Regions from separate parts of the Homo sapiens genome. Here region 2 is linked to region 1. A link means that fine-mapping ties the variant in region 1 to the expression of a gene that starts in the linked region. Tissue or cell type: whole blood. Region 1 holds a variant in brackets; the other region holds the start of a gene. All regions are shown on one strand. Distances are between the middles of the regions.

Region 1 (2,500 bases):
CCCAACCCGTGGGTGCCTGGCTCTGACTTGCATCCTGTCATAAGGTATGAGAAGTTTATTTCTCTTCTGGATAGGTACCAGTTAACAAACCCAGATGGCCCAGTAACATTAACCAACTATCCACTTTTTGTAAATTTTCATTTCCCTGACTCTGTTCAAGCCCCTGCTGTTCACCCTGCCCATTCTGTCATTCTTTCTTTAAAACAGTCATCTCTGCACAAATTGAAGTTGAGTTCAGTTCACGCTGGACCCTATTGCAATAGTTATTAATAAAATTTACCCTTGCTGTTTTAGTGCCTAGCTTTGCCTATCTTCCATCTATGCCTTTTCTCTGTATGTATATGTTTTATGTACCAATACATTTTTCATTAACAAAAGGACTCTGACTCTTCTACAGATCTCAAAGCCTAAAAGAGAACACCTAGCTTTCACCCCTCTGTGGCAGCTATAGCCTAGACTATGGAAGGGGGTAAAGACCACAGCAGTCTTGAATTGGGTAGTGATGGAAGAAAAATAACTTCAGGACTACTGACACAAACTGGAAAACTTACTGGGCTGATACCAACTCTAGACATATGTCTCTCTTGTCTGCAGTTGTTTGCTGCTGCCTGGTGGGAAGGTCCATCTTCCCTTCCTCTCACCTTGTCCTCCCTCAGGTTCTCTTAACAGTGATAATGAACAATTACAGCTCTCAGAAGGGTATCAATCTGAGGGACTTCTCATAGCAGAGCCTAATTTTATATGGACTTATAAACCCATGGAGGAGGTGGGATGAGGGAAGTCTATAATCAAGAGAACTTTATATTAAAAACTCTGAAACCGTAACTCCTGTAAGAGTTGAAAAATAATTTTCCCTTTACTCTTAGTTCTTAGCTGGGATGGACCCCTGTGATAAGAGAGATTACTAAGAAGAAAACAAACAGTAGTTTATTAATGTGTATATTCCATAGACACATGGGAGGTATCCAAGGAATGAGTAATTCTCAAAGAGGTGGCTCTGAACCTCAGCTGATAGAGCATCTTCTACAAAGAATAATACATTTTTAGAGTTGTGACAAGTCAAAGGAAAAGGTCCTTGAGTCTCTGGGGTCAGCAAATTGTGGAAAAGCAAATAAGTTGGTTAAAGGTAGTCAAAAGCTACTAAAGTTTGTCTGTAGATTCCTCTGGTGCAGTCTCCAAGCTGAAAAGGGTCTAAAGTTGTCTCTGGCGATCTACCTTTGTTCTTTCTGGTAGAGAGTGTTACCGGGGGTCCTTGCTCCCAGAACTCCCAAGATGGTC[G/A]TGGGCCACTTCCAAGATGATGGCAAGCCTCGTGTTCTCTGACCTGGGGTTCTTGGCCTCACGGATTCTAAGGAACGGAATCTTGGGCCATGCAGTGTTACAGCTCTATTAGAAGTCGTGGGTCACGGAAGACAACCATGGAACCCAGTGACTAGTGTTCAGCTCAATTAGGACAAACCCAGGCACTTAGCCGTGCAGGAACAAATGGCAAGCCTTTAGCCCGATCTGGAGCGGCAAAGGGGTGCCTCGCTGGATCAGGAGCACAGTGGACACCCTGCTGGATCCGGAAGAATGTAAGTCAGCAGCGAGTCTGCTACGGCGGCAAAACAGCAGTGGTGGACAGTGAGCGAAAGCTCAGCTCGAGCAGTAACAAACACGAACCAGAAGAGTGCAGTTTCAAGATTTAATAGTGTGAAATAGAGTGAAAACAGAGCTCCCATACGAAGGGAGGGGACCCAAAGGGGGTTGCCATTGCTGGCTCGAATGCCTGGTTTTATATCCCGATCCTTGTCCTTCCCGCTGTGCTCTCAGGCAATAGATGATCGGCTATTTCTTTACCTCCTGTTTTTGCCTAATTAGCATTTTAGTGAGTTCTCTGGTTGGGTGTGAGCCAAGTTGCAAGCCCCGTGTTTAAAGGTGGATGCGGTCACCTTCCCAGCTAGGCTTAGGGATTCTTAGTTGGCCTAGGAAATCCAGCTAGTTCTGTCTCTCACGAGGTCTTTGTAAAATTTGTGTCCTGCTTTTGGGCAAAAAGGGAGAGGCCAGAGAGCCTTTCTTGTAGCTGCTTATGCTCAATTGCCTTCAGCTGAAAATAATCCTTATGCCAAAGTCATTTTTTTGGTGACTTTTTTTTTTTTTACCTTGTATATGAACTGCTCTTCAGATCCACACTTTGTTGTTTACTGTGACTCTCTTTGTTGAAAAGTACACTTGAACTGCTTTTCAAATGTATATTACACCTTTGTTTACATGTTTGTACACCAGCTTCCTTACCCTGTGGATCCTAAGATAATATTTGGAAAGAGAATTGGGGACCGAAAGATTTACACACCCTGCGGGAACAATGTGGTGACTGGCTTGTTTCCCTTGTGTCTTTTCTCAGAAAAACCAAGTAATGAGCACACTGCTGAGATGGAACACATGAAATCTTTGGTTCACAGACTATTTACAATCTTGCATTTAGAAGAGTCTCAGAAAAAGAGAGAGCACCATTTACTGGAGA
Region 2 (2,609 bases), 120 kb before region 1:
TTAATAGTGATAAAGTTTTTACTATAGTAGAAACTTGTGATTCTTTCCCTTTTCAATAAGGAAAGGAGATTACCGCCAGGAGTGATTTGCCACTTATTGCAGGTTTGCCAATTTTGATTCATTAACTGAACCCTCTTGCAGATTCAGGAGATAAAAATGCGGAGTGCCCAGTTAAATTTGAATTCAGATAAACACCAAATAATTTAGTATATCCCAGATATTTCATTTTTAAAATAATAAATGTGACCCATGCAATATTTGGGACATACTTCACTATTTGTATCTAAAATTCAAGTTTAACTGGGCATCCTATATTTTATCTAACAACCCTACTGTAATTGGTTTAGGTTGCTCTTTAATGCCTTTGGTTTGCTTTCAAAAATAAGTAGTCTCAAAACAAAGCATCCGATTTCCCAGTAGTTAGAAGAACTCAATACCGGTTCCGAAGCTTCTTCAATTAAAAACGTGCTTCAAAAGAGAAGCCAATTCTGTGGGAGATACTTTCCCAAAAAACTCGGGTTTGGGCCCCTATACCGTGAACTACAAACCTCCGCAGGGGTAGGCCCGGGCTGCCCGCCTCACACCGCACTCGCCAGCGAGCAGGGGCCCGGCACCGCAGCCCGGGGCAGAGGCCTTGGAGGTTGTGGAGGTGGGAGAGGCCTCGGCCGACCCGCTTCAATCCGTCTTCTCCAAGCTCGGTGGGGAAAACAAACTTCCTGAGCGGCCCTGCCCCCTCCAGATGCCGGACGCTGTTTTCGTCTCATCCCCGTCTGGGTTGGATGGCGAAGACGGCGCTCAGAGCACGCAGCACCGGGAATTAACAGCGAGTTTTGAAATCTAGAGCTCGCAAGGTGTGCGTCGCCTGCTGCTGTTCATTCCAGAGGGTCTTCTGCTGGAGAAGGAGGGGGCCCTCGACCTCGGGCTCCCGCTCTCGGGCTCCCGCTCTCTCGCTCTCTTTTTTTTTTTTTTTTTTGGTCGGAGGAAAGAAAACAGCCCTGCGCCCGGATGCGTAGAGAGCCGACAAGTGGAAACAGGGACACACCCTCCCGTGAGCCCGCCCAAGCTGGAGCCGCGGCGCGCTGAGCGAGCAGGCGGGGCGGGAGCGCCCACAGCTCGGAGCCACCAGGCGCTGACGAGGAGCCCGGCTGAGGGAGGATGCGCCGCTGACGCCTGCGGGAGCCGCGCGCCTGGGGCGGGAGGATGCTCCAGAGGGGCCTCTGGCCGTGGCGCACGCGGCTGCTGCCGACCCCTGGCACCTGGCGCCCAGCGCGCCCGTGGCCGCTGCCGCCTCCGCCCCAGGTAAGAGCGGGTGCCGGGCTGTGGGGGTTCGGGGTAGGCTGGTGCAAAGTTTGCGTTGGACAACTTTGGCGGGAGCAAAAGCCGAGCGGCCGAGCAGTCAACTGCGTTTTGCTGGCTGCCGGGCTCCGCGCGCCGGGCGGTCCCGACAGGTGGTGGCCGGGCGGCCGACGTGGGTCACGGAGGCCTGGGCTGAGGTCAAGACTCCGGGCCCGGGGAAGGTGAAGCCAGAGCGCTGCGGCTGGGGGTGCCTCACCCGGGCCGAGATAGGGTGCGGGGACCACCAGACTTCGGCCTGGGAGCAGCAGAATAACCTGGGAGGCAGTTTCTGGGCTGCAGCTCTCGGTCAGGAGCAAGTTTCCAAAGCCGCTGCGCCGCGGGGCCGGTTCCCTCTTGGTGATCAGTGCCCGAGCCCCTAAGGAGCCCGGAAACGATGAACGGGGCAGTGACCGTCCCGGGTGTGGACGGTCGCAGGAGAGTGAAATTTCCATCCTGAAATCTGCGAGCACCTCCCTTTCCCAGAAGGAAGAAAAACTCGCGTTTTGTTCAGACACCCGAGAGACGGGTGAATCATGAGTGTGCTGGTGAGTAACAGTTGGCCTGACACCGTTGTATTGTGGTCTGTGGAGAACCGTGGCTTGGAGGAGTAGAGAGTGGATGTGCACCAAAAAAGACTAGAAGAAGGGGAAAGCGCTGAGTTTAAGGAGGATTGCGATGGAGCCTGACAGGAGCCCGGGAGTGCAAACTCTGACCCAGATGAGGAAAGACAGCCAAAGCCTTCAGGGTGTGTGTGGTTGGGGAGGGAGCTGTTTCTGAGTTTTCGTTTGTTCCTCCCCCACACTGTTAAGATTACTTTCAGATTGTTAAAGGCTTAAAAGCCAAAAAGTAAGCAGTGTGATTCTCTTGTCACTTTCACTTCCTGTTTATTTTGTTCTTTTTTTTCCTTCCCCCCCTTTTCCTCCAGCTGTCTGAGGGCTTCAGTTTCAATTGATGCAGGGAATATTTAAGTGCATTTTTTTTTCCTTTTCATTGAGCTTGTGACCAAAGGATTAAGTGCATTCAGAAAATCAATTCCAGGAATGTTTGAAAGAGAATGAGGAAGGCCATGTTGTTACTAAATGTAAGAACAGGGGCAAACTCCTTAAAATGTAAAATGGTAGACTTATAAAGTCATTGGGGAGATGGGCTTTTTATACTTTTAAAGGTTGTACTTTTACTGTAAGTGTTGCATTGTGTAGTCAAAGAGATACCAAACATTAAAACAACCCAATACGAGGAACCCCTTTCACATGCCATTTTAAACACAGATTATT

What was found. PIP is the estimated chance that this variant, and not a neighbour inherited with it, causes the effect.
Region 2: it holds the start of MCUB, and the variant in region 1 is fine-mapped to the expression of MCUB in whole blood (INTERVAL, PIP above 0.99).

Annotation. Positions count from the first base shown.
Region 1 is chr4:109,680,202-109,682,701 of GRCh38, forward strand. It overlaps MCUB (mitochondrial calcium uniporter dominant negative subunit beta), which reads left to right. Exons shown (of 8, transcript NM_017918.5): 5 at 2,381-2,500. It also overlaps a transcript of CASP6 not described here. Among named protein-coding and RNA genes, the nearest start is that of CASP6, 22 kb to the right of the region's middle. The variant G/A (reference allele first, on the strand shown) is at 1,279.
Region 2 is chr4:109,559,138-109,561,746 of GRCh38, forward strand. It overlaps MCUB (mitochondrial calcium uniporter dominant negative subunit beta), which reads left to right and starts at 1,109. Exons shown (of 8, transcript NM_017918.5): 1 at 1,109-1,299. The coding sequence starts at 1,201. RefSeq lists a silencer at 1,056-1,375 and an enhancer at 1,796-1,995.